7 separate regions of the Homo sapiens genome follow, and all the other regions are reported to be linked to region 6. The links are microRNA targets in miRTarBase. Many come from high-throughput screens and were not tested one by one. Region 6 holds a microRNA gene; each other region holds the end of a gene's coding sequence.

Region 1 (4,054 bases), not on the chromosome of region 6:
TTCCACCAGAGGAGGTGCCTCACGGGGCAGGGACACTTCGCCCTTTGCCTGCACATGCTGGATGGACACAGGTGGGCTGCGCCACTGACTCCACTCCGTGTCTCTGGTTTACTCTTCCTGCAGGAGGCCCAGCCACTGGCCCTTCCGTCACCAACCCCTTCCAGCCCGCGCCTCCCGCGACGCTCACCCTGAACCAGCTCCGTCTCAGTCCTGTGCCTCCCGTCCCTGGAGCGCCACCCACGTACATCTCTCCCCTTGGCGGGGGCCCTGGCCTGCCCCCCATGATGCCCCCGGGCCCCCCGGCCCCCAACACTAATCCCTTCCTCCTATAATCCAGGGCGGAAGGGGGCCTGGCTCCATCCGGCTGCCCCATTCCGGCTCCCTGGGAGATCAGTGTTGTGAGTGCATGTGAAATGGGGGATCCCCACCCCCAGTGCCCTTCCCCTTCCTGGGGCCCACTCACACTACACCCTCTTCCTTTCCCACCCCACCTCCCCGGAGAGAAACTGGACATGGGGCCTGGGGAGGGGAGCTGGCCAGAGGAGGACCCCTTTCCCGTGGCATTAGAAGGGGGAGGGGTGGCTGGGGCCCCCACCCATTCCCCCTCCCTCCAAACTCCCAACCCCCAGTCAGTGTTTGAGCCTCCTCGTTCCCCTCACGCACCCGCTCACGCACCCTCGGTGAATCCTTGGTGATGATTTTGGCAACTTTGGGAATAAATGGCAATTCCCACGGGCTTGGCACTCCCAGATTCCCATCTGTGATTTCGTGTGTCCCCCAGAGCCCCTTCATCCAGGGACCCAGGGCTCAGGTCACATCTCTTTCTCGGGGGTGGCTGGCAACCAGCCCCTCTGTCTCAGAAGCCCTGATTTCCCTGACCCTCCCAGGTCAAGGGATGGCTGGGTTGAGGGTGGACTGTGCGAGGCCTGGCGGAGCTGTAGCCCACACAGGTCCAGGTGGTCGGGAGGCCACTCATGGCCAGACGCTTCCGGTGCAGGAGGCCTTGCTCTTGTGTTGAGGGGACACCAGGATGAGGTCAGAGAGTGCACTGGGGTTCAGGGAGGAGAAGAATCCTGAGAGATGGCACATGTGCAACACAGGTCACCGTCGCCATCGCCCGGGCCCACCGCAAGCATCACTAATCCATCCCTGCACTCCTGGAAAGCCGGGTCAGCCTCTGCCGGCTGAGCTGAGTGGACCACCAGGCGCCTCCTGGTTGTCCTCTGTGTGCTGTTTTCCTCTGTGTGCTCTTGTCCTGGGCTGGACCACACCTGGTGAGACTATCCGGGAGAATCCTCGGGCCGCCTTGTGAGGGGGGTGTTGCTGTCATCTCCAGGGCTAGGTGACAGCTTGTTGCAGGCCCCACAGCCAGGGCCTCAGGGATGGGGATCTGGCCATGTCTGTTTTAAGCCGAACAGGCTGTTCTTCCATGTGGAGTCTCCCTCCGTGATCCCCTGGGGTCAAGTCCTGACGGCTGGGTTCGCTCCCTCAGTGACTCCGACAGCTCTTGTCTCAGAGGTGCTGGGGTGAAGGCTGTGTGGGGCCAGGCCCCTGGGGTCAGACTTCTTGCCCCTTCTGCCCGGGGGACGCTCTGGGCTCAGGGTGGGGCCAGACAGCTACATCACAGGGACACTTGTTATGGGTCGGGGTCCAGGGAGCACCCAGCCAGTGGAGTGTTGGAGGCCACTGAGAGGGACATGACTGCGGTGTCCGAGCAGCGTCGTGGCCACCCTGTGTGCCCACTCCCTGGTGGACAGACCTACGTCACCTGGGGATTGCAGAGCAAAAGGAGTGCTGTTGGGGTGATGTGAGGTTGGGGTTCTGTTTCTTGCTGTGAATTGGGTCATGACCTGTGTCGGAGCGTTCTCTGGCCTCCACTTGCCCCTGCAGACCAGGGTGTCTGGAGGGTTGTCGGGGGCTTGATGGAGGAATTGCTGACCACACCATGCAGGAAGAGGTGGGTCCCAGGGACACAGGAACTTTGGGGTCAGCCGGTTCCAGATTCAGTTGCAGAGGAGCATCCCCCTTGCTTAGCCAGGGAGGGGAAGCCCTCTTCTCACACCCGGCCTGGGTATGTTGTGGGAGAGTCATTTCCCAGGAGGAAATGGGGACTGTTACCGGGGGAGGGGGTGCTGTCCCCAGGCAGCAGCAAGCGTCCCTTACGCTTGGGCTGTCCGAGACCCTGCTGCTCTAGGCGGTTGTGATGGGGGAGCCCCACAGGGCACAGAGAGCCAGCTGAAGGCGGCAGCTCTGGGTGGGATCACATGGAAAGGGGAGGCGAGCCGAGCCTCCCTCTTGCCAATCTTGGTCTCCCCACAGGGTCATAGCTCCTGGGCCCCTCACTTGTCAGACCCTCCATTCACCAAATTAAGGATAAGTTTCACGATTTCGCACTGCGGAGCCTGCACTCCCTTTCTCTTCAAAAAAGCTGAGGACGAAGATAAAATGATACAGTTGGATTAGTCCAGTGGAGGGGTTAAAGGTGTGAGGCTTTAATTCTCCCCACCATTTCCTCATTTGGCAAAACAGAGAAGACAGGATTGAAAAACAAGACAAAAACCCAGAGGCTTGCACATAAATTTGGGGCTTAACTACAGCATCTTCGGCATCTTCTTTTCCCTACAGTGCGAATTACAAAGTAGCACCACAGATCTCGTGTCTCCTACTTTATTCCTCTTTCTAGAATATTCCAGCCACCAAAGTGCTCAGCAGGAGCTGCTGTGTAGGAGTCCCCCATGAGGCCCAAGCACCTGAGCTTAGTGACATACACGGTTGAACGCTGGGAGAATGCTGGGAGCCTGCTGTTGTCCCCGATTGAGGGCTCCCCCCACTGTGTGTGTATCACTCTTTCTACAGCAGATGTGTCTCTCTCCCCACAGTGGGATGGCGAGCTTGTTAAATGGCCGTGAGGAAGACTTTATTCAGGACCATCGAGACAGGTACAGGTACCATCAGTGGATGGAAAATCACTAAGAGCAAACCTCAGGGGTCCGGGGGTTTTCGGCTAAACCCACCTAGCAGGATTCTTGCTGAAGGCAGGCCAGGGTGATCAGAGGTCACCTGGGGATGGTGGAGGCTGAAGAAGCCTATCAGATGTGAGGGTGGCGGGGGTTGGGGGGGATGGCGGCGGGGTTCATTTGCTGAAAGGATTTTACAAGGGCATGCACGGATGGGCCTAGGAGGAGGTTCAGATCCCTCAGGTTTGGCTAAGCAAGAGTCATGGTGGTGCTCCCGGCTGGCTCTCAGGAGCAGATGTGCTTCTGACCCGACGTCTTCCCCCAGAGAGGGCTGAAGTGGAAAAAACCCCAGAATTTCTCCCTGGGACAGGTGAAGCGATGGGGCGTGGGACATTCCTGGGTCTCGACTCTGTTCAGGGCCTAGGGGTTGGGTGGGGAAGGCACTTGAGGGAACCTTCCTGGAGCCCGTAGGAGCTTCATCCGAGCTCCTGGGTCACCCCGCCCACCAGAGTCCAGGCCCACCAGAGTCCCCTGCCACCTGTGCTCACCCTAGCCTTACCCCTCGCTCTACTCCCGCCCTCGCCCTATCCTCGCTCCTCGCCCTACGCTTGCCCCTCGCTCTGGAGCTGCGATGCCAGCCTCAGGGCTTTCAGTCCTGCCTTGATCTTTTTTTATACTGAAACTCAATTTTACACACACAAACCCACTCCCAGCCAGCCTCTGCCTTTTGCCTTTTCCTCATGTTCTCATTGAATAGGAAGAAATGCCCTTTTTTTTCCCCCCTAGAAGGAGTCTTGCTCTGTTGCCAGGCTGGAGTGCAGTGGCACGATCTCGGCTCACCGCAACCTCCACCTCCCGGGTTCAAGCGATTCTCCTGCCTCAGCCTCTCGAGTAGCTGGGATTACAGGTGCCCACCACCACGCCCAGCTAATTTTTTTTTGTATTTTTAGTACAGACGGGGTTTCACCATGTTAGGATGGTCTCGATCTCCTGACCTCGTGATCCGCCTGCCTCGGCCTCCCAAAGTGCTGGGATTACAGGCGTGAGCCACTGTAGCGGCCCCCACCCCATTTCATTTTTTATTTTTTTATTATACT
Region 2 (4,066 bases), not on the chromosome of region 6:
AAGTAGCTGGGATTACAGGCACCCACCACCACACCTGGCTAACTTGTATTTTTAGTAGAGATGGCATCTCACCATGTTGGCCAACCTGATCTCGAACTCCCGACCTCAAATAATCCACCTTCCTCGGCCTCCCAAAGTATGGGATTACAGGCGTGAACCACCGCACCCAGCTGGAATTTTCTTTTTTTTTTTTTTTTTTTCCTGAGACAGAGTCTCGCTCTGTCGCCAGGCCAGAGTGCAGTGGCACGATCTCTGCTCACTGCAACCTCCACCTCCCGGGCTCAAGCCATTCTCCTGTCTCAGCCTCCCAAGTAGCTGGGCCGACAGGGATGCGCCACTATGCCCAGCTAATTTTTGTATTTTTAGTAGGCAGGGTTTCACCATGTTGGCCAGGATGGTGTCGATCTCTTGACCTCATGATCCACCCACCTCAGCCTCCCAAAGTGCTAGGATTACAGGTGTGAGCCACCGCACCTGGCCTAGAATTTTCTATTTAACAGTTCAGATTTTAAGTTGAGCACCATTCTGAGTAGTATGATGAAATCTTTTGCCATCCTGCTCCATCCATCCTGTCAGGACGTGAACCATCCCTTTGCCTGTTAGTCACTTTAGTAGCCGTGCTGGTTATCAGATTGACCGTTACAGCACTCCAATGATTGTGTTCAAGTAGCCCTGATTTACTCAGTGATGGCCCCGAAGCACAAGAGTATTGTGCCTAATTTAGAAACTAAACCTCATCATAGCTATAGGAAAAAACATAGTATACATAAGGTTTGGTACTATGGGCATCCACTGGGGATCTCAGATCACATCCCCCCCAGATGCGGGCGGACTGCTGTACAATCTGCAGTCCTTCCAGAAAGCATCAAAATGACTACTCAGCTGGGTGTGGTGGCTCACACCTGTAATCCCCAGCACTTTGGGAGGCCAAGGCAGAACTGCTTGAGCCCAGGAGTTCAAGACCAGCCTGGCCAACATAATGGGACTCTGTCTCTTAAAAAAAAAAAAAAAATTGAAAGATTACCCAGTAATACTTGCCATATTTCATAGTAGATACCTGTCTCTCCATCTACACTTCAAATATCCTGAGCCCAGCTGAAGCCTTGCAGCTCCTGCACCACCCCACATCTACCTGCTGAGTGCTCTTGGGACTCCAACCCCGCCCATTTTTAGCATCCAAGTGGCTACCACATAAAGTCCTTTTTTTTTTTTTTTTTTTTAACCTCTTTAATAACCCCTTCTCTCCACCCCACCATGTACACCTATTACCAAGTTCCAAATCTGCATATGCTGGGATTCTTCCCCAATACTGTAGCCTTCACTCTTCCTGTCCTGGTCTCAGCCAGCTTTCTCTGGCTTTGGTGAGAGCTGAAACACCCGTCTACCACTGAGCACCAGCCACTTCCTTAAAATCCTGGAAAGGTGAAATCACCTCCATTTTAGGCAAGGAAACCAAGGTCAAGTCTCCGAGAGAATTCTCAACCTCCTTGAAAAACTACCTCCTCTGGAGCCTGCTGTCATTTCCACATCCCATGCTTCAATCTTCTTGTCCCACCCATAATGCCTAATTTTGCTCTTGCTCCCCAGTAAGCCCAGTTCCCAACCAATCCTCTCCCCTCTTCTCCCACTAACAGCTTCACCTTTACAGCTCTCATCCACAGTCAGCTGCACATCCATCAGGATTTTAATTCCAATGACCATAAACATTCACCCTTCAACATAAAGAGGTGTATGTAATTCATGAGATACTCATATTAGAAATGAAACTTTGAATCACACCTTGAGATGAAGCCAAGTTCAAGATGAGAAAATAGTCACTAGACAGCTGGGTGAGCTATCTATGTAGCAGTTCCAGAGCCAGTCAGGGACAGCATCCTTGGGAACTGTGCCACTGCTGTCCCATCCTGGGAAGCGGACTCCCATCTCACGTGCTTTTAGCCATCCGGTCATCCAGAACCTCAGTCATCAACTACACAACTTCACATGAAGTCTGGAACCCACCTTCAAATGCATGGCACAGGATCCCGATCTGGCTCCCCATCATCCTAGATTTCAAAAACTGGCCACCATTGGTGTGCAATGGAGTGATCTCAGCTCACTGCAACCTCCGCTTCCTGGGTTTAAGTGATTCTCCTGCCTCAGCCTCCCAGGTAGCTGGGATTACAGGCATGTCCCACCACGCCAGGCTAATTTTTGTATTTTTAGTAGAGACAGGGTTTCACCCGAGTTCAAGTGATTCTCCTGCCTCAGCCTCCCAAGTAGCTGGAATTACAGGCATGTCCCACCACATCTGGCTAATTTTTGTATTTTTAGTACAGATGGGGTTTCACCAAGTTGGCCAGGATGGTCTCCATCTCTTGACCTGGTGATCTGCCCACCTCAGCCTCCCAAAGTGCTGGGATTACAGGCGTGAGCCACCATGGCTGGCCACTGGACACGATTTTTACATGGAGGTGAAGGAACAGGTCACAATGCAGCACCTATCAATGCCACAAAAGACTGACAGCTGTCACCCCACTCTAGTCTCCAAGGAGGAAACTCCAGGCAGGTTAAGTTAGTTTAAAATTTTATTTTTTTTATTTATTTTTTAATATTTTTATGTAATAAAAAGTAAAAGTCCTTGTCCAGCCATCCTCGTGGGGCATCTGTCTGTCTCTCACACAGGTCACTCAAGTTAATGGGAAAGAAAGAACAGGGGGCCCAAGTCTGAAGTTATAAATAATAGAAAATAAAAGATCTTCCGTCTCCAGCGGGGGAATAGATGAGAGGATGGGAGGGCAAGACTGGGTGGGGACGGGCAGGGGCAGAGCAGGAACCCCCCACCCCTGCTGGACCCTGGCCCTGCCCTCTGTGAGGCCCCTCCCATTCAAGGTGCTTGGCAGGAATTCCCCAGCTCCCCTGGGGAACGGGGGGATGGGGGGCTGGGAGTGGTCCGAGCTGCTGGGGGAAGAGACATAGATCACTCTTCCCTCCACTCATGGAGGTCTCAGGTCGCGGCCAGGACAATCTTCAGTTCCCCGGGGGGTGGAAGGGGAGCTGCTGGGAGGGATGAGATTGAACTGGTTGGAGGGGAAAGAGAAGAGAGCAGGAGCATTAGAACCCAAGCAGCTGTCCCTTCCTCCAATGCCGTCCAGTGGGGGCGTGGGGGTGTGTCTGGGAAGGAGCGGCCTCCTCAAGGTGTCTCGGGGGCTGTCAGAAGCACAGGTCAATCGCTGTTTCCCAGTAAGCCAGAGCCCTCACTCATGTGCCCAGCTCAGCCCCCCACACCCCAGTCTGGCCCTGTCTGCTGCACTGACCTTACCTCGGCTAAGTCAGGAGACAGTCGGGGTCACTGAGAGCTGGGGAGGCAGTGGGGAGGGGGGCTGCTGGATCACAACTGAGCGAGGACGGAGGGAAGCAAAGGACAGAGCCAGGAGCAAGCCCCTGGCGGCGGCGACTGTGGCTTCTGCCCACCCTACATACTTCACAGACAGGTGCAGGTCGGCGGGCGCCCTGTGGGACAGCCCTGCCTCCAAGACCCCTCACTCCCCACCCAGAACCCGTGCATCCTGCCCCACCTGCAGCCCCTCAGCTCTTCCATGCCAAATTCCCCCAGCTAATGAGAACTCACGAATCCTGTCATCGGCTCCTCCTGGAAATCCAGGCGCCTGGCCAGGCTGCTCACCTTGGGGGTGTCCGATGTAGGGGTAGGGTGAGGGTGTGGAAGCTGAGAGTGCAGGCACCCCACTCTGGGGCACCGCGCCTTGGGGGGGCCCCCCATGACTCTGGGGTGGGTGCAGCAGCATCACCTGGGGCGGGTGGGGAGCCCCAGGGTGAGGGGGCGGGGCTGCTGTGATTCCAGTTTGGACATGGGCCTGTGGAAAACAAAAAAGTAGCCGGGAAGACCACAGAATCCTGAAACAGACTCTGAGAGCCAGAGTTAGGGAGCACTATGGCAAGGGTGGCACCAGGGACTTGGCAATGGGATGGTCCCCATGGCAGACGGGCCCTGGCAAACAGACCCAGAAGTGGGACAGCTGGGCTCTTACCTGGGTAACATGGGCCATGTTGGTGAAGCCGTGGGGCA
Region 3 (4,066 bases), not on the chromosome of region 6:
CCTGTCTACACTGGATAATCATTCCCTGGCCATATCAGTCATCATGATGGTGGTGGCTGGCTTCTTCACCCTCTGTGCCGTGCTCTCAGTCTTCCTCCTGCAGCGGGTGAGTGGTGTGGGCAGGGCTGACAGCAAATGGGAGGAGGCAGGCAACCGTTTCCTGCCCTTGCCACGAGATGTTTTTCACCACTGCAGTTGGGCATCCTAGGCCCCCAAAGGTCCAGTACCTTTCTCCAGGGATCTGGGTGGGGGGTCAGGCAGTGCCAGGCTTCTGGTGACCCCTTTGGGAGTATAACCTGGATGGCTGGCTTCCTGGTGGGCCCAAAGGACAGGCTTCTCTCACCCCACCCCTCTTCGCCAGGTGCACTCCCTCTACCGACGGACAGGGGCCAGCTTCCAGCAGGCCCAGGAGGAGTTTTCCCAGGGCATCTTCAGCAGCAGAACCTTCCACAGAGCTGCTTCATCTGCTGCCCAAGGAGCCTTCCAGGGGAATTAGTCCTCCTCTCTTCTCTCCCCCTCAGCCTTTCTCTCGCCTGCCTTCTGAGCTGCACTTTCCGTGGGTGCCTTATGTGGTGGTGGTTGTGCCCAGCACAGACCTGGCAGGGTTCTTGCCGTGGCTCTTCCTCCTCCCTCAGCGACCAGCTCTCCCTGGAACGGGAGGGACAGGGAATTTTTTCCCCCTCTATGTACAAAAAAAAACAAAGCTCTCTTTCCTTCTCTGGTGATGGTTTGGTAGGATTCTTTTGTCTCTGGAAGCAGTGGGACTGAAGTTCTCTTCGTCCTGTGCACACACAGACACCCCCACACAGTTGGGATCACAGGCTGACCTGGGCCCATCCCAGCTGGAGCTTTCTGCCAGGGTCCTGGGCCTTGACTCCCCCACCCTGCAGGCCTGGCCTGAATCTGGCTTCTTAGACACAGCCCAGTCCTTCCTGCCTGGGCTGGGAATAAGCCTCTCACAGGTTCTGGTGGACAGATCTGTTCCCCAGGTCACTCCAGTGGTCTCCAGGCTTCCAGAGAAGGCTGGTTGCCTCAAGCTCTTCTCTGCCTCATAAACGGATCCAGAGAAGGCTGGTTGCCTTAAGCTCTTCCCTGCCTCGTGTTCCTGAGAAACGGATTAATAGCCCTTTATCCCCCTGCACCCTCCTGCAGGGGATGGCACTTTGAGCCCTCTGGAGCCCTCCCCTTGCTGAGCCTTACTCTCTTCAGACTTTCTGAATGTACAATGCCGTTGGTTGGGATTTGGGGACTGGAAGGGACCAAGGACACTGACCCCAAGCTGTCCTGCCTAGCGTCCAGCGTCTTCTAGGAGGGTGGGGTCTGCCTGTCCTGGTGTGGTTGGTTTGGCCCTGTTTGCTGTGACTACCCCCCCCCCTCCCCGAACCGAGGGACGGCTGCCTTTGTCTCTGCCTCAGATGCCACCTGCCCCGCCCATGCTCCCCATCAGCAGCATCCAGACTTTCAGGAAGGGCAGGGCCAGCCAGTCCAGAACCGCATCCCTCAGCAGGGACTGATAAGCCATCTCTCGGAGGGCCCCCTAATACCCAGTGGAGTCTGGTTCACACCCTGGGGGGTGTGTCACTGTGATGGGACACGTAGGAGTCCACCCTTAAAACCAGCACCCTGTCCCTCGAGGCTGCCGAGTGGGTGTGTGGACTGGGGTGCCTTCCCACAAAACTAGCCTCCGGCTCTGGGCCCGAGACAGCCGCAGGCCCCAGCCACTGAATGATACTGGCAGCGGCTGGGGTTTTATGAACTCCTTTCTGGTATTTTTTCCCCTCTATGTACAAATGTATATGTTACGTCTCAATTTTTGTGCTTAAGTAAAAATAAAAACATTTTCAGACAACACGGGTCCACATGTCTGGTGGACTTGGGAGGACGGGGCAGCCCACAGGATTAGGGGCTGGGCGCCGCTGCTAAGATTGGAGAGCGGGGACAGTTAAGATGCAATAAATAGGTCAAGGCCCTTCCTCAGAAAAGTGAAAAGCAGCTGGGAGGCCTGGGAAGCCAACGCGGCCTCTTCCAAAGGCGCCTTCTCGTGCCAGTAGCTCTCCTTTCAGAGCTGCGGGTCCTGGGGAGGGGCCCTGGGAGCCTCCCGGACGCCGTCGCCCCCACACACGCCCGCTCCGCCGCCCGCGCCCTCACGTGGGCGATCTCTAGACGCCTCTGCGCCCGCTAGGAGTCCCCGGAGACCACGCCGGCCGTCCTCCGTTGTTAACTTCTAGGCTCGCGGGGCCTCCGTATCCCCACGTGGGCCCTGCAGGAACTGGCGGGGCGCGTGACCCGGCGAGGCCCAGAGACAGGGGAGGGGCGCCGGGAGCCGGGCGGATCCGCGTCCCCGATGCGCGCTGCATTTCCGGCGGGCGGCGCTGGGGGCAGCGTGGAGCCACCCAGTGCTCGGCCCGCCCCGCAACCCGCCGGAACCGCCGCCCGCAGCGAGGAAGCGCCCGCGCGGGCGCAGGCGGCCGGAATGGCGGGGCCCGGCTGGGGTCCCCCGCGCCTGGACGGCTTCATCCTCACCGAGCGCCTGGGCAGCGGCACGTACGCCACGGTGTACAAGGCCTACGCCAAGGTGGGTGCCGGCCGATGGCCCCGTGCCCGCCCGAGCTAGCTCGGCTGGTGCCGGCCGGGGAGACTCTGAGAGGTTAGCGACAGTGTGGGAATAGTTAGGGGCGGGAGGCCGGCCTCGCCCCAGCTGACCCTCGGCGGAGGTTGGAGCCGACTGCCACGCTTAGGTCTTAAAGAGCGCACCTGCACCCACCTGCAGGGTCAGTGGCTGAAGAACAGGCTCAAAACAGGTTACCTGGTGGGCTGGGAGGAGTCTGGGACTGGAGCCAGTTGGGAGGCAGAGTGGGCGGTTCTAGAACCCTGAGTGACATGCCTCTGCCGGGAGCACTCCAGAATGCAAAGAAATGGATCAGCTAGCCGAGGGTTGGAGAAGACCAGGCTGAGGCTGTGTCGGGAAGCCAGGATTCCAGAATCAGCATTCCTCACTGGCCTCACAAGGGAAAGCTGGGAAGCCCGGTGCTGGTGTGCAGTAGGTAGACCCGGGGAGGGGCGGGGTGGGGGAACAGAGGGAACCAGATAGAGCCTTTCCAGTCAGACAAGGGTCCTGGCCCCCTCAAGGCAGAGTCCCCAAATCTCCTGTCTCGCAGAAGGACACTCGTGAAGTGGTAGCCATAAAGTGTGTAGCCAAGAAAAGTCTGAACAAGGCATCGGTGGAGAACCTCCTCACGGAGATTGAGATCCTCAAGGGCATTCGACATCCCCACATTGTGCAGCTGAAAGACTTTCAGGTGTGAGCCTGGGGCGGGGCCGCTGCCAAAGGGAGCTGGAGAAGGGACACTCTCTTCAGGCCGCCTCTCTGCCTCTAAACACAGTGGGACAGTGACAATATCTACCTCATCATGGAGTTTTGCGCAGGGGGCGACCTGTCTCGCTTCATCCATACCCGCAGGATTCTGCCTGAGAAGGTGGCGCGTGTCTTCATGCAGCAATTAGGTAAAGGCCTGTGACACCAGCCTGACACTCTGTCCCTTGTTCTCTGCCCCCCACCATCCCACCCCTCCCCCAGGCTTAGAGCCTTGGCACGCATTGCAGCTGCCTCCTGCACAGCCTGAAATTTTATGGTCCTGTTTATCTCATACACTCAACCCTTGCTCAAGGACGCTGTGGGAGAGATGAGGGGGTAACCCCTCTGTGGGGTGTTCAGGCTTCCATACATAGAACATAATATAAGGACCTTGTAGAACATTCCAGAGTCCTGTAGGTAGGACTCAAGTGCTGTGCCAAGGAAAAGAGCAGGATCTCAAGGGCTGGGGCATCCAGAGAAGCTTCTGAGAGGTGGGGAGACTTGTGAAGGGGCAGAGGGAAGGAGGGTGGGCACTCGGGTGGGGTGGCAAACTCCTAGAAGTGGTGTGATCTTGGTGCTTATATGGAAAACATTAGACCAGCCAGGCAGGAACTGGGGTTGTGCAGGCTTGAGGAGGCAGATGTGAGCCGGGGAGGCGAGAGGCAGGCGGGAATGGGCTCTGAACTGTCTCTCTTCGTGGGTCCTGCTCCT
Region 4 (4,066 bases), not on the chromosome of region 6:
ACGGACCTCTGGAGTTCAAAAAGATAAACTGTGTTCTCCACTCTCTGAGCCAGGTGACCCTTCTAAATGTAGTTCCCTGGAGTTGGGGCCATTACAGCTAGAAATATCGAATGCATCCACCACAGAGGTGGCAATTCTGCAAGTAGATGATGACAGTGGCGACCCTCTGAATTTGGTTAAAGCTCCAGTGTCAAGGTCCCCTCCAAGGGAGCAGGTAATTGAAGACAATATGGTCCCTCAGGGAATGCCTGAACAGGAAACTACAGTTGGTGCCATCCAGGACCACACAGAATCCAGTGTTCACAACTAAGAATAAATACCTAGAGCTACTTGTGAGTGAATCATTGGCTTCTAGAAATCAGATGCCCAGATGATCCAAGACTAGTTTGTTATCTCATCTGGAACCTACACCAAGAGATGCAGTCAGCATCTTAAAGTAAATGTTCATGGAAGCTAAAAAATTTACCTCCTTTCCTTTTCCCTTTCCCCTTAAAACACCAGACAAATCGATAACAACTTATATATATATATATATATCTGTAAAAATGTATTTTGTTAATTTTTTTGGCCAATTTATTTTCTCCCACTTTGTCATTAAAATCACATGTCTAACTGGCTCACCACATAGTGTGCTTTGATTGTATTTTGGCTTTGACTCTGCCATTTCTGAAATGTGGGGGAGGATGGAGGCAGCTGACCTCTCCAGTTGCTGTGTTGTATTCCTACCCAATTTCCTGGGCAGTTGATGCATCTCTGGGAAAAACACCAGAAAGCTTGCTGAAATGGAAAACTTGGAAGAATTGTTCATCTCTTAGGCTTCCATTTGGATGGGCCTGCCTTAACATTGTTTGAAATGCAGCGTGAGTAGCTCTTTTGTTTACTGTTTACACCCCTTATTGGCATGTCAACTCCTGTACTTCCCTTACTCTGTTGCCTTTCTTGAGATGCATTGTCCTGCTAACCCACAAACCTGTTTGGAAATAAACATGGAAGAATATCTGGCAGGCTTACTTTTAGAAGACGACAAATCGGTAAGGCTTATTCATGGTTCATTGCCAGGAGCAGATATGCTTTTGAGATCACTTTTATTTTTGAAATGGCCTTTGTTCATTGTATTGTGATCCAATAACACTTTGTATTAAATTGTTTAGCAGCCATTTGTGTTGTGAAGGGGTAGAAGATCTCTGAAACTTGTCTTGAGATTGAACTCATTCCCTGTTCCACAAACCCATATGTATCCTTTCCTCTACCTCCTCCTTTCCCAATTAATTTCAACCATAGTACGATGTTTGGGGTTGTATATTTTGTTAAAAAGATTAAAGAATTTATGAGTTGGCTTGGACAAGTTTAACTTTATTTTTAATGTGTTAATTACTTGGAATAAATGCATTAATCTCATGTTTCCTTCTGGATTTTTGTTTTGAAATCACACACATTTGAACTCCAAAGGAAAACTAGAACAGTGAATCCCTGCTGCCCTATTGTCTATCCGCACCCGCAACCATGCTTTCCTCACTTGTCAGAACTACTTCATGCCAGAATGTTAGGATATATAGTCTGCCCCAGCGCAGCCTGGGTGGGTAGTGAGTAGGCAACAGTTGTCTGGTATTGGTATCTTCCTGTTGTGAAGCTTTTTATATACCTTTGTGTTGACTCTCCGTAGGATTTTCTGGGAACTGAGCTCCCCTAGGACAATCAGGTTCTTGCTCTTGGGAATTAGGGAGCTCAGTCCTCAGATTTTCTCTGTCCCAGTTTCCTCTTGTATCCCTGTTGTCAGCAGTTTATAACCTGACTCAACAGGGCCTTCGGAGTCTTATTTACCCACCTGTTCCTCAAAGATAATACAAAATTGCTGATCTGGATTAACCTCCCCGCTCCCCCAATTTTTTTTTTCCTGTTTCCTTATGTACAGAGCTATAAAATCCCTAGGTCAACATTGGGAAGGATTTTTAATTTTTTTGACTAATGTCAATTTAGAAGTCATTCTGGCCTCTCTTATGTTATGGAAAGGACACAGATTTGGGAGAGCTAGATCCTTGACTGTGCCTCAGTCATTTACCTTGCTGTGATTTTAGACAAGTTAGTTTACCTTACTGTGTCACAGAGTTGTTTTGTGTTGTTTCCTTTGAGATAAGAATCGTTATCTTTATCCTAGCACCAATATGTACAGGGTCAGGGTATCCTGCCCATGTCACCTTTCTAGCCCTGGTTTTTAGGACAAAGCCTGAGTTCAATGCAGTTTTCTTGCTTGGAAACCATAGACTAACTCAAAAGGTGCCATTTAGAAGAGTTTAAACCCAAGTAAGCTTCAGAGAGATTTGTTTTCCCAGAGAACTACTCCCTCCCTGTTATAGCAGGTTATCTATAGGAATTCAGGGAACATAATTTTTAATGCCAGTTTGTGCTGATTTTCAGTCCTGTTCACTTAGTTCCACTTCCCTTTAGGGGGAGACTGATGGTTTTAGAGAAAGAGTTGGGAGGAGGTAACCATATCAAGATCCCAATCCTAACCTTACTTCCTCAGAGGGCATTGAAATCTTACCCTGTAGGTTAGGAGGGGGCTACTTGAGTGAGAAGAGAAAAAGAGGCAAAATTTATTGTAGGAAGGGCAGAACTAGTTCAGGTAGCTAGGGCTGGAGTACTTTGAGCCTAAGCTTTGGTAGTAACTCCTCTTGTATTCTCTGGATAACTTCAGGATTTACACCAAAGGCATCTACCAATCCGGCTTTTTCAAAAATAATGCTCACTTAAGAGTTACGGGAGTGACATTCTTTATATCTTCCTTGAACCAGCAGAGGGAGAACTTTGAGGATTCTGTATTCTGGGCAGGAAGTGTTGCTGCCTCCTTCCTTTTGGTTAGTGGGATCTAGCTTTGGAACCTATCCAGAGAAGACAGGTGAAAGGAAGGACAGAATTCTAACCCAGTAGCTGGAGATAGAGCATATTTTTTTGTTGTTCTCTACTATCACAGTACTGAATAAACTTTCAACTTAGGAGACTTAGGCACATGGAAGAAATGGGCCCTGAATTTTAAATGCAGCTTATGGTGTAATATAACTATGTTTTAAATTTTACAAACATCAGGAACAACTTTTATCAGATATCCTCAATTGTGAGAAGCAGATGATCAGCAATTATGTTTAAATTTGGGCAAATACCTAATTTTACCTAAGGTGTATAACCCGCTAAAAATTCCCCCTGGCCTTGCAAATGGGGGGCTTCCTGCTTTACAAGCCATATTATATTCACAGGGCACATAATATTCTGCTAATATTGCTGAATAATATAGTTAAGTATTACTTCGCCCATGACACTTCATCTTTCTAAAAAGTCAGAAAGTTAGTATTTTGGTAGCAGAGCATGCCAGCACATAGTCAATTTATCAGTCTGCCAGATTCCAGGACTGAGGAAGAATGGGGTGGGGAGGTGGACATACAGGACACATGCATCCAATAGGAACATAAAGTGTAATTTTAAAAATTGGAGGAGGGTTCAGAGAGGATGTAGCCTGTAACAGAAATAAGTGAGGTAGTTTCTTTTACATATATATATATGTATATATGTATATAGTTTTATATATACTATATATAGTATAGTTTCTTTTATATATATAATATAGATAATATATATATAAACATATATAGGCAAGCTTTGTTGATATATTAATATATATCCCTAAACCTTGGTTCTCACCTTAACAAAGCTTACATACTAAATCTAGGATAAGAACCTAAACAAAGTCTTCATTTATTAACGATTTATGTGAGAACATGGACAAATAGTTTTGTGAGCACATCTCTTTAGAGTTTAAAATTGCAGTAATTTTTATGTAATTTTTAACTAAGTTGTGTATACAATATTCATCGATAAGCCACGAAGTTGAATTTATAATGAAAATCTTCTACTCTTAAAATCACAACTCTCCTGATTTGCCCTCAACCCATATACACTTCCAGAAGAATACATATAAAACATGTATGTTTATGTTGTAGCATTTAATGTGGTTGTAATTTTACATTTATGTTTCTTTGATTAATATATGCTCCCCTTAAGTACATGATAAACT
Region 5 (4,066 bases), not on the chromosome of region 6:
GCTAAAGATGTTACAGCTAAATGAAGGAGCAGAATTCAGGAGCCTAAGTATGTTGGAAGGAGGGAAACATTTGCTGAGTGTTTATAACAAGCCACACATGGTGCTAAGTACTCTCGCATAACTTACCACATTACCTGAGAAGAAGTATCATCTTCATTTTATAGATGAGAAAGGTAAAGTTAAGAAAAGTTAAGAACTACCTTTGTATACAGGTCTAGGTTCGAATTCTGGCCCCACTTCTTACTAGGAAGTAACTCTAAGTAAGCTAACTAACTTGAGTTTATTTCTCATGTATAAAATAGGGATAAAGATGCCTGCCCTGCTGGTTTAAATAACAACGTAGCTTGTAAGTAAGGGCACTCACAAGGCTCTTGGCACTCAGGAGTCACTACGCTGTCATCAACAGTAACAGTAACTTAACTGAGGTCATAAAAACTCAAATCCAGGTTTTCTGACCCCAAGTCCAGTGCTCATGGGGAAAGGAGCTAATCTGCACACAGTTTCTGAAGCCCAGTAGGTACGGATGAACATTCCTAACCCCAAAATCCAAAAGGCTCCAAACTCCAAAACTTTTTGAGGGCCTCAATGACACCACAGGTGGAAAACTCCACACATCAAGTACTTAACACAAATTTTGTTTCATGCACAAAATTATTTAAAATATTGTATAAAATTACCTTCGGGTAATCTGTGTATAAGATGTATATAAAACATAAATGAATTTCATGTTTAGATTTGGGTCCCATTCCCAAGATATCTCATTATGTATAATGCAAATATCCCAAAATCCAAAAAAACCTGAAATCTGAAAACACTTCTGCTCCCAAGCATTTCAGATAAGGGATATTTGACCTGTATAGGAGCCAGATTAACAACTAATTATCCTATAAAGTGTTAAGTGTAGAAGCACATACAAGGCATAGAAATGGCCCAGCAGGAAGTAACCCTTGAAAATAAGTTACCAGGAAAACAAGTTTGTAAGCAGGGCAGTATTTTCTCTGTAGAACCAGCAAAGGTGAAAACAAGGAGACCAGAAATCATTTGGGAAAACAATGACCAAGAGGCGAAGGCTAAACCTTAACAACTGAAGGATCCTTTCAGTGAACTGGGTGGTCTGTTGTACATGTTACACACACACACACACACACACACACACACACACACACAGAGGCATTTCTCTTCTTAGGTTGTACAAACACACTTCAAACTGGAACTCCTAATCCCCACAGCACCACACACATTACGCTGTCCTCCCACACTGAGAACATAGCATCTTATTTTGTTCCCTGGCAATCTTCCCCCAAAGGATACACTAGAAACAATTTTTTGGTCATGTTTGCCAGCCGGTAGAAGATTCAAGCTGGCACTCAGCAAATATAGTTATTTATACTATAATGCTAAAAATCTTGCATTCTGCAATATCACACTCCAAAAATAACAGAAAAGGGGGTTGGGGCAGACCACTCAAAACCTATGGAATTCTGTAACCAGAGCAATAACAAAAGAGAATGAAGCCTAATGATGATGCTAATGCAGTACCCCCACCACCTGTACACCAGTCCCCAGCAGCCTTAAATCCTGGGGCTTATACTGCTTCCTGAGATGTAGGTTCTTTGATATGTAATCTTAGCAGAGATGCATTCCATCAAAATTAAAACTGTGATCCAGGACAGGGCCTTCTTCATCAATTTTTTAAAACAAGGTGGGTGAGGTGTCTTCACAGCTTCTTCCATTCCACTCACAGTTTCCCCTGAGAGCTGAACATCATGGAAAGGCTAGCAGTGCTTCTAGAAGTTACTAAACCAGCCCCTACTTGCAATAAAGGAAGGTGCTTCTAGAAAATTTTCAGCTTTTTTCTTAAGCTATTCAATCTTGTCCCTGATCATTTAAAAACATTAATGTTCTGCAGAAAAATCTAACTTAACTTTGGGTCATTCTGACACCATTTCTCTATTTCCCAATTGCACATATGCTATTTCTCACCAAAAAAACAATGTTGTTACAGACATGCACGGTCACGAAAATAGTCACTTCACTCTGGTGATTCCTTCCCTTCTAGGTCAGAGGTGCCCGTGGCCCTAAGAATATGCAATACAGTTCACACACAAGTCACTCCAAAACCCAGAAAGTGCATCCTGGCCCTGTGGCTGTGCCCAGGCTTCACTACAAAGGCGCCACTACAGCTCACCATCAGCAAGCCTATGCCAGGAGACATCTCCCCTCAGTCATGCAGGGGAGAGCACACATGCAGGAGGAAAAAGGTTAGCAGAGGAGTATCAGGCCTAGGCCCCTCAATTTTGATTAAGAAAGCAATTTCCCTGACCCTGGGCAAGAACACAAGGCTGCAGCTGATGCAGAAACAGAAATCCCATCTCATGTGCTCACAGCCTGTTTAACCCAGGCCGTCTGAGACGAAACCAGGAAGCATCTGATGGGAATCCAGGACTGCAGACTAAAACCACTATTCTGGGCAGACAAAGGTATGCCTGAGTTCCCCATGCTCTGCCACTCACTTAACAAATGTTTACTGAGTGCCTCGTATGTGCCAGGCACTGGGGACCAGTGAGGACCCAAACAACACACTGAAGAGCCAAGAGCCCCAGAGGTGAGGGGCATTGGGGTCAGCATTCTCCTCTAGCACCAACAGGCACATGCAGTATGACTCTGGGCTAAGTCACAACCTGGCCGTGATTCCTCCATCTGTAGAATGGAGATAAACTAACTGCACATTTCACATGACTGTTTCAAAAAAGGTTAAGACATAACTCAATTCTTTTTAAAATAAAATGCTTTTAGGAAGGGGGGGAAAGAAGGAAGGATTATTTCCCAGGCTAGATTAAAACACCTTCATATCAAGTGCAGAGGGAAGGAAAAACAAACTGGAAATGGCTAAGAAACTATATAGAACTAGTTTTTTCCCAAGGGCCTAGAGAAGCTTTCACAGAATTCAAGGCTTTCGGGAAGTCAATTCATTTCCTTCTGTCCTTTCTTCCTGGGCCCAGTAACTCAGTGACGCACTGTAATATAATCCAGTACTCAGTGATCACCTTGGGAAAAAAATGGAAAGACACCCTAAGAGATGGCTCTCTTCACTGGGCCATCAAAGGGCAAATCAGCTGAGACCAACACAGTAATAGACTCGTTTATTTCTCAGAATTTAGTTTGCTGCTTGATATTACCTGCAAATGTGAGGCAATCACACAATGTCCTTGAGGCTCTAATCCCAGACTTGTCTGAGCACCGTCCACAGGCAGCTCGGCCCATCAGAGGTCTGAAACAAACCTCCTAACTTGGGCCAGGTATTTTGGTTTCAAATAGTCACCCAGCTCATCCTTAGTGACCCACACATGATGGCCCTTATTCCCAGCCTGGGAAAAGTCTCCAGTTAATAGCAGTGCTTTGAAGAAGAACACCTTGGCTCCGAGGTTACTCTCTGTCCGCATTGCCTGGGGGAACTTGAATGTGTAGTGCCCACAGGGTGCATTTCCTAGGAACTTGGCTTCCATGTTGTTTTCTGAAGAGGGAGGAAAGAAAAATCACAATTGGAAGGTAAGGATACAGCCATCTGTTTACTCTGGCTCCCAAAATTATAGGGGGTCCCTGCAAGATCTGGCCCTGAGGTAAAATCAATCCCTAGGAATAGGACTAGAGCCATTCCTGAAAAGAGGCTCCTCCCCTCTCAATCCAAATGCCTCCTGGCCCATGGAGTCCAGATTCACCAGGCTCACTCCCATGTGCCAAGCTACTGTTTTTAGACTGAAAGTCAGCAACACAGTTACAATCACACCTGGGAGTCAGAGCACCTAGTTCCTACATTCAGCCCAGTCGCTATCTGCTGGCGAATCAGCCCAGTCGCTATGCTGGCGAATCAGCCCAGTCGCTATCTGCTGGCGAATCAGCCCAGTCGCTATCTGTTGGCGAATCAGCCCAGTCGCTAACTGTTGGTGAATCAGCCCAGTCGCTATCTGCTGGTGAAGGACGAGGACATTTGGTCTGTAAAACAAAGTTCATCCACCTTTAAAATGGGTGTCACCTGGAAAGCATTAAAAAGGACCCCAGTTTTAAC
Region 6 (4,066 bases):
GCTTGTTTGCATCATAGGATCAGAGTTTAAAAGAGATCCTGATCATTTAGTATGAAACTGAAAAATGTAGTTGATATTTAATGAATTCTTTCATTGTGTGTATGGTTGATAGTTTGTTCCTACACATTGGGGTTTGGTGTGTGTGTGAGAGAGAGCAAGAGAGAGAAACAGATTGATTTTACATTTTTCATTGGATTTACTTTTTTACAAAGCATGGTTAGAAGTTATTAATACTTTGATCTCCAGGTTGAGATTTTGGAGATGATTTTTTATTTAATGGAAATATGTAATGAGTGAGCTCTTTTGTCTACGAGCCACTCATTTTTTATCCCATTGCTTTATCGAACGAGGGCTGAAAATTTCAATTTTGAATAGCACATGGCAATTTTCCTCTTAGAGCCAGCTAGCTATTCAGTTAACTGTTCTCCCACCTCAGGATGGTATTAACAAGAACAGGACAGTATACTAAGGCACTAGTTCCCAAACATTACTGGAATCATCTGGGGGTCTTTAAAAATACTGTTTTCTGACTCCTGTCCCTGGATAATTCAGATGTAATTGCTATGGGACGATACCTGGGCATTGAGATTTTTAAAATCTCCCCCAGGTGATTGTAAGGTACAGCAAACCTTGGGAATAGTTGTACTAACTGAAGATTGAGGCACTGGAATAACTAATGTTGGGTAAGATAGGGTAAGAACTTTTTCGCAATAAGGTTTGCAGCTCTTGGGATTCTCACTTGATAATGCTGTTTGGATAAACCATCATCCAAGTTTGAATAAGATCTTATATTTAGAAATGAAAACTGATCTGCAGAATTAGTTTAATCAATAAATGGGAATTTTTAAAAATCTTCTTGGCAATTTGTTTTTATGAATCCCGTTGAAGCTGTGTCTATTGACTACCTAAATCTAGATCATTCTTAATCCAGTGTGTAAAAAACCAGGATGACACAAATGAAAAACTTCAAAAACCTGGAGGTCAGACTATTTTAGTAATTTAGAAAACATTTTTCCCACACATTAATCAGTACTAAAAGAAAAAAGTTAAAACCTATTTAAAATGTGGAAAAATTGCTTCCCAATATTTTAACAGAGAGAGACTGAGAACACACAGCATTGAGTCATCAGGAAAACTGAAGATCTCCCCTGAACAACACTGGGATTTCACTGCAGAGGACTTGAAAGACCTTGGAGAAATTGGACGAGGAGCTTATGGTTCTGTCAACAAAATGGTCCACAAACCAAGTGGGCAAATAATGGCAGTTAAAGTAGGTGATGCCATGATTATTTTTGGTACTTTAATCCATTAGGTGAAATTTCATGGTGCAGTAATACCACTGTTGTTGTGTTCCTACTTTTGTGGTAAATGTGGGTGTTTAAAAAATTGTTTCTCCAACTCCTTTGAGGGTGTTCTGTGTAGAGGTTTCTTATTGGTGGCACATTTTCTATCTCTTTGGAAACATGAGTGTATGAAGTGTGCATGTTGATTGCATTTTTGGCATGATGCATTAACATGTTTTAAACTTCAGGCCCTTCTACTGCCAAGGTGAGTTCAGGCTGGGCGGCTGCACCCCTGGGAGCAGGGCAGTGCTGCACTGAGCCAGGCGGGAGCTGGAAGAAGACGCAGCACACTGGGTTGGGCAAGGTGCGGGGCTAGGGCTAACAGCAGTCTTACTGAAGGTTTCCTGGAAACCACGCACATGCTGTTGCCACTAACCTCAACCTTACTCGGTCCTGACCGGCTCGGCTTCTGTTTGTTTATTTCATCTCTACTCAGTACTGCCCTGTTCCCTGGTTTTAAAGTTGTACTGAAATGCATACCTTGTGATAATGTTGTCACATTTTGTCCTTATTGTGTCGTGCCACTTAATATGTTCATTAAAAAAAAAAAATGGCCAGAAACAGAGATTTGATCCATAGACAATACCTGGCAAGCTTATGCTGGTACCTGTAAAGAACTGGTGGTTTCCATCTGACTCCTAGTTTCATGTAATTGTAATTTATTCATTTGTTTGTTTAGATGTTTAACAAATCTTTGCTGTATGTAAGATATTTCAGGAAAATCAGCAACAGGGGGAACAACTTGCAAAAACAAAGGAAAAAAAGCTAGCTGTGGCCATACCCTCTCTGAGCTTAAAATTCCTATGGGAACAAAAATGTTTCAGTTTACAAGAATTCAGAATGGATTTGCATATAGTCCAAGCTAATCATCTTCCTATTAGTGTCCTATTTTGAGAGTTTGTCAGAGTGGTTGATAAGAGTCCTTAGTTTTTTCTTGACATTTGAGAATGAATTTAAATTAAAATAAAATGCTTTCTGTGTAGAAGTCTGTTGTGAGCCAAACCTTACTGTAACTATTTTAGTATCCTTCACTGTTGAGCATTTCTTTTTGCTGGGTCATATGAAAGTAATGTTAAATTAGTGGTAGGGAAAATTTTTATGATTCTCTCTATGGGTTCCTAACATTGTTTTTGGCTGTATTTTTAAAATGTGGTGAGAACTATAGACTTTTCATAGGCAGGTGTATATACACAACATTTTGTATACAAACCGTAGACCTCTAAAGATGCACAGGTGAAGAACTCTGCATTATGTGTTAAAATAAAATGTTTTATTGGAATGTGAAATGATTTCTGTATTCCTATTTTGTGCCACTGCAGTGTAAGTGGAAAGAGTCATTTTATTTAGACTCCTGGATGAATGTTGTGTTGTCCCTTTGTGCTACCTGTGTGTGACATCCAGTTTTAGTTGGCTGGATCTTAAGGGAAAGGTTTCCTATATAGTTAAAGTTGTAAACTTTTCTTTCAGGTACTAGGGAAAGTAATTTTAAAAAATTATTTCCTGCTTTTTACAGTTTGTGTTATGTGTGCTTCAACTTTGTTGATGAACATTATTAAACATTTTAGTAATATGGATTGATTTTAGCCATTGTTAAAAAGGTCATAAAGGTAAAGAGGGTACTTCCTTTTGACACTTAAAAGTTTTTCTCACTGATTAATTTGATAATATTTTGGGTTGTATAATGCTTACTCAAGTTTTGTAGGAATTCAAGAATGAAAATAGGAAATTGTTGTCCATCATTTGTAATGTTACATTATCAGTGGCTACTGGCTACTGTGACAGTTCCAGTTGGGATGCTATTAAAAATCCCAGCTGTACTTGAAGAACTTTCAAGGCAGTCATGAGACCTACAAACTGGTTGCTGTCACATGTATACCCACCACATGGTACTACCTAGCTTCGTTTACCATCTCGAATTCTTGAACAAGCATAGCAGTTGGGGATGGGAGAGGATGGCAGTACAACACATCAATTAACATATAGTTGAGGAGTACCTTTGGATTCCATGACTTCATTAATACTGGAAGAATAAGTGTTTTTGCATTAATATGCATTAAAATTTGATACCAATTGATGACAGATGTATGCCATCTCTGAATTAAAGAATGCATTTATTATTGGTTTCTTCAAAGAAGAATAGTCTTTCATCACACTTGAGAGAGTTCATTCATTCCTCATTTAGGTACATTGACTGGATTGACAGGCACAAATATACAGAATCAATGTATGATTAAGGAGGTGTTTGATTTGAGACTTTACGGTTTTAAAGGAACCATGAGACGGTGGTTCACACAGCTGAGAGCTTTCCATTGCTGTTGGTGAAATGAGAAACACGCTTGAAGTAACTCTGTGCTAACATCTTAATACACACTTTGAGAATAAAGAAGGATTGCATTATTAGATGTTAAGCTGGAAATGATCCTTAAGATTTACTTGCAATATCTGTAGAAAAGTGAACTGTGATATTAGCTTGATTTTTTTCTTTGTATTATTCCTCATTTTTAGTTCTGAGGAATTCCTTCCCCAAATTTATTTTGCCATATATAAGAAATATTTGAAAAAGGTGACTTCTTAGTAACCAGAGTTAATTACCCCAAAGACTTAATCTAAAAATCAGTTTTGATATAATCAGATTTAGTGAGGTAACATTGTAAGAGTTATACTTAAAACAATTTTTTGATGTTTGGTTTGAGGACAGTCTCCCAAGCTATCGGTGAGTTTCT
Region 7 (4,066 bases), not on the chromosome of region 6:
CCACAGTGCCCTGGGGCTTCTGAGGCAGAGCCACCTATGGGAATCTGAGTCAGGGGATAACCAGGAGGTGACCCTGCCCGCCTTAATAGAGAAGCCAGCCGGGCATGGTGGCTCATGCCTGTCATCCCAGCACGTTGGGAGGCTGAGGCGGGTGGATCACCTGAGGTCAGGAGTTTGAGACCAGCCTGGCCAACATGGTGAAACCTGTCTCTACTAAAAATACAAAAAATTAGCCAGGCGTGGTGGCATGTGCCTGTAATCCCAGCTACTTGGGAGGCTGAGGCACAAGAATTGCTTGAACCTGGGAGGGGGAGGTTTCAGTGAGCCGAGCCGAGATTGTGTCACTGCACTCCAGCCTGGGCAACAGAGTGAGACTCTGTCTCAAAAAAAAAAAAAAAAAAAAGCAACACCAGACCTGACTGAATCAGCAAGCGAAAGATTGAGAGGGATCTTGTAGCAAAAAGCAAAAGTGGAGTCAGATTTTGGATTCATGGCGTGGTTGTCATACTTTCGCATACATCAGAATCACCTGAACGCTTTCTTATGCCCCAGGATGGGCCCTACCCCAAGTTACTGGTTTGGTAGCCCCGGAGAAGGACCAGAGAATTTGTGTTAACAAGAAGTCCCAGGGGACCCTGAAGTTTGCTGGTCTGGGGACCACATTTTATAAACAGCTGGCTTTGACAATTAGAGAGCAGACATACAGAATCTAGTTCACTGACCCACTAGCTGCCTGTCTCCATAATCCTTAGAGTAGCCTTTAAGGCTCACACAGGCCAGCAGGAAGTTTCCTTCATCGGGAACATGTTAAATTTCCATTCAGATTCCCAAGAACTTGTTTTTAACTCAGTGGGCCTTAAGCCAGGCCTGGGTTATGGCCCAGCCCTTCAGTCTCAGCATCCTTAGGGGTTTCAGGTTTTCCTCTCCTGCCCATTCCATGTCACACACCTCAGCTGGGTCCTCTGGAACAAGTCAAGGAGTAGCCACAAGCCTGACGCTGACCCTAAGCTTCCTGGGTGGGGGCGGTGCTATGGTTTAATCACACCCAGTGCTGGTCTCTGGGCATAGAAAGCTTTTTTTTTTTTTTTGAGACAGACAGGGTATCGCTCTGTAGCCCAGGCTGGACTGCAGTGGTGTGATCATGGCTCACTGTAGCCTTGACCTCCTGGGCTCAAGTGATCCTCTGACCTCAGCCTCCCAAGTAGCTATGACCACAGGCATGGACCACCACTCCTCACCAATTTTGTATTTTTTAAAGATGAGGCTTCCCCATGTTGCCCCGGCTGGTTCAAACTCCTGAGCACAAGTGATCCTCCCGCCTTGACCTCCCAAAGTGCTGGGATTACAGGTGTGAGCCACTGTGTCCGGCCGAGAAAGCATTCCTTAAAGCTTTTTTGGTTCCCAGGCATTCAGAACAAATTGGATTTAAAGGATAAAGATAAAGGCCTTTGAAAATGAAGAGATCAGGGGAAAATGGTTCAGATATAGAAACTTGTTAAAGGAGTAGCTGAGCTGAGGAGAAGGGAAAGGCATGGTGTTTGGGAGAAGTATGATCACAAGGTGGTGACTGAGGAAAACTCCCATTTTTTACTTTCTAGGTTGATGGGATTTCCTGGCTCTACCATGGTCACACAAGTGGACCCCTTTAGGTCCTCCTGAGGATTATATTATCAGTCCAACTCCTGGTTATTAATGCACATGATCACAGTAGTGCTTTTTTTTTTTCCCCTCAAAGAGATGGGGGTCTCACTCTTGCTCAGGCTGGAGTGCAGTGGCACAATCATAGTTCACTGTAACCTCTAACTCCTGGACTCAAGTAGTCCTCTCTCTCGGCTTCCCAAAGCACTGGGATTACAGGTGTGAACCTGTCAAAATCAGTGGCTCATTTATAGAGCTTGATACAGCTGTAATCGAGAAGCAATGCTTTTGCTCTGAGAAACTCCAAGCCAAATCAATCAAACAAACACCTTAGCCTTAACAAGCTTAACAAGAACACTGCCCCACCATGTGGTTCAGTAGGGAATATCTTGTGTGTGGAAACTACATTATCCTAACCCTTTCTCCCACAAATAAAGCGAGTTACACAGGAGAAGTCAGTACCACTGGCGATAAATTAAATTAATAGATATTGCCACCAGAGACTAGCCCTCTAGAGTGGAATATACAGGCATTTCTAAGAGCCAAGGTAGCTCACCTTGTAATGCACAGAGCAAAGCCACAATTACAGCGCTCCACCTACAGCCCACCCGAGACTGCAGCCTTCTAAAGGGAGAAGACAGGTGACAATGATTAGACATCAAGCCCTTGTTAAAGAAAACCAGTTTATTCTAAAAAGCTCTAAATGCCCTGTGCTTGGTCCCTGGTCAGGGAGAGGTCTCAAGAGGTTACTACCTGCACAGGGGCTGAAGGTACAGGGGGAAAGTCAGGTTTCAGTTGGTTGAGTCCTACCTTATCTGTTTGTTAGGCTTTTTCTAGAAAGTCTCGCTCTGTTACCCAGACTGGAGTGCAGTGGTGCGACCTCGGCTCACTGCAACCTCCACCTCCAGGTTCAAGCAGGTCTCCTGCCTCATCCTCCTGAGTAGCTGGGATTACAGGCACACACCACCATGCCCAGCTAATAATTTTTTTATTTTTAGTAGAGATGGGGTTTTGCCATGTTGGCCAGGCTGGTCTTGAATTCCTGACCTCAGGCAGTCCGCCGACCTCAGGCCTCTCAAAGTGCTGGGATTACAGGCATGAGCCACCAGACCCGGCCTGTGTTAGGCATTTATAAGGAGATGGCAGTCCAGCTCCTGGTGATAAGAAAATGTAGACTCCCAAGATTCATGTTTTAACTTTCTTCATAAGTTAAGCAGGAGTCATTTGCCTCTGTCATGAATTCCAAGACTACAAAGTTTTAAGAGATGCTGGGATAGCAAATGAGGCTTGAATTCTGTGTTGACAAGCCCACACACCTCATTTCATTTAGTATCCAAGAGATAAACAAACACCACCTCTTCTACTCCAGGACTGGCATCTCTGGACTTTTCTGCCATAATCCCAAATCAGGCCAACTCTCCTTCCTCTAGGATTCGCGTGGTGGGATGCCAGGCAGTGACACCCTTAGAGCAGGAAGTCTGACTGTAGACCCAGCTACACCCCAACCAGTGAGGGTCTGCATTGGGCACTTGGGCCTCCTCGTGAGGCGGGGGTCCAGGGTTCTGGTGCAATGCCCAAGGCAGGGCCACTTCTCAGCCCTAGCTCTGGGCCAGCACAGTGCCCCGGTTTGGCTGCACCAACTCACAGGCTCTTAGCTGGGGTTCTGGCAGGTGGGGCTCGGCTAGAAACAGATTAGACAGTGTTGCTAATTCTTCAGCAAAGTCCTGGAATACATAGAAAGATGAGGGAAAAGGCAGCATGTAATAATTCTCAATGGCTCATCCTTTGTCACTAAAGACCACAACCTGGCTGGCTATATTATTTTTTCTCAACTGCCCTCCACACTGAAATGGACATGAAACCTTGTCTGTTTGTTAGTACTCTGGGAGGCTGAAGTTATGGCAGGGAGCGAACTCTGATGGAGGCACAGGCTTGACCAGTTTTTGAGTACTACTGAGTGCATCTACTTCATCTTGAAATTATTATTCCCGTTAAAATCCAGGTTATTCTAATTTTAAAAACCCATATAATGGGCTGTGCTGCTTTCCAACTAACTGCCTGCCTTTCGTCCGTCTTCCCACTAACACAGTCCCTCATATAATAACTACTCAAATCGGGACAATTTCAGGGTGGCCCTGAAGACTCTTGACAAAAATCCACTTAGTTTGGCCCCATCACTTGCTTCCTTTCAGGACAGATGGGATATGTAACACCTGTTCTCTCTCCACCTAAAAGACAGGAGACTCCTTACCCCTGGCCACTGGGCCTGGTGGAGGCTGCCCAGGCAGGCCTCTATCTCCATCCGTCCCATCAGACCCTTCTCCACCAGCTCCCGTAGCAAGAATAGCAGCAAGTCCCACTGCAAAACACACCGAGGTCAGGGTTGCTAGGAGGACGACAGAGTGACCCTGATGACAGAGATTGAGAT

What was found. Region 6 holds the annotated microRNA hsa-miR-744-5p (UGCGGGGCUAGGGCUAACAGCA, at 1,649-1,670, shown strand). A microRNA usually pairs through its seed, bases 2 to 8, with sites in the 3' UTR of a target mRNA and lowers its output. Matches are read on the target gene's strand: a 7mer-m8 pairs with bases 2 to 8, a 7mer-A1 pairs with bases 2 to 7 and ends in A, and an 8mer does both.
Region 1: miRTarBase lists EPN1 as a target of hsa-miR-744-5p. The part of its 3' UTR that is shown has no 7-base or 8-base seed match.
Region 2: miRTarBase lists ATXN2L as a target of hsa-miR-744-5p. The part of its 3' UTR that is shown has no 7-base or 8-base seed match.
Region 3: miRTarBase lists SCAMP2 as a target of hsa-miR-744-5p. Seed matches in the 3' UTR shown: 7mer-m8 at 1,425-1,431.
Region 4: miRTarBase lists ZNF318 as a target of hsa-miR-744-5p. The part of its 3' UTR that is shown has no 7-base or 8-base seed match.
Region 5: miRTarBase lists MRPL46 as a target of hsa-miR-744-5p. The part of its 3' UTR that is shown has no 7-base or 8-base seed match.
Region 7: miRTarBase lists CDAN1 as a target of hsa-miR-744-5p. The part of its 3' UTR that is shown has no 7-base or 8-base seed match.

Annotation. Positions count from the first base shown.
Region 1 is chr19:55,695,025-55,699,078 of GRCh38, forward strand. EPN1 (epsin 1) reads left to right here. Exons shown (of 11, transcript NM_001130072.2): 11 at 124-4,054. The coding sequence ends at 332. Among named protein-coding and RNA genes, the nearest start is that of EPN1, 22 kb to the left of the region's middle.
Region 2 is chr16:28,835,721-28,839,786 of GRCh38, reverse strand. It overlaps ATXN2L (ataxin 2 like), which reads right to left. Exons shown (of 22, transcript NM_007245.4): 21 at 4,029-4,066; 22 at 2,555-3,854. The coding sequence ends at 3,522. Among named protein-coding and RNA genes, the nearest start is that of MIR4721, 6.3 kb to the left of the region's middle.
Region 3 is chr15:74,841,513-74,845,578 of GRCh38, reverse strand. SCAMP2 (secretory carrier membrane protein 2) reads left to right here. Exons shown (of 9, transcript NM_005697.5): 8 at 1-106; 9 at 362-1,849. The coding sequence ends at 496. ULK3 (unc-51 like kinase 3) reads left to right here and starts at 2,423. Exons shown (of 16, transcript NM_001099436.4): 1 at 2,423-2,575; 2 at 3,159-3,299; 3 at 3,384-3,504. The coding sequence starts at 2,474. RefSeq lists a silencer at 1,942-2,661 and enhancers at 1,924-2,835, 2,904-3,429.
Region 4 is chr6:43,333,402-43,337,467 of GRCh38, reverse strand. It overlaps ZNF318 (zinc finger protein 318), which reads left to right. Exons shown (of 10, transcript NM_014345.3): 10 at 1-1,398. The coding sequence ends at 310. Among named protein-coding and RNA genes, the nearest start is that of CRIP3, 27 kb to the right of the region's middle.
Region 5 is chr15:88,456,350-88,460,415 of GRCh38, forward strand. It overlaps MRPL46 (mitochondrial ribosomal protein L46), which reads right to left. Exons shown (of 4, transcript NM_022163.4): 4 at 3,129-3,514. The coding sequence ends at 3,264. Among named protein-coding and RNA genes, the nearest start is that of MRPL46, 9.0 kb to the right of the region's middle.
Region 6 is chr17:12,080,261-12,084,326 of GRCh38, forward strand. MIR744 (microRNA 744) reads left to right here and starts at 1,639; the gene lies at 1,639-1,736. MAP2K4 (mitogen-activated protein kinase kinase 4) reads left to right here. Exons shown (of 11, transcript NM_003010.4): 3 at 1,096-1,270.
Region 7 is chr15:42,721,255-42,725,320 of GRCh38, forward strand. It overlaps CDAN1 (codanin 1), which reads right to left. Exons shown (of 28, transcript NM_138477.4): 27 at 3,890-3,997; 28 at 2,290-3,362. The coding sequence ends at 3,237. Among named protein-coding and RNA genes, the nearest start is that of CDAN1, 14 kb to the right of the region's middle.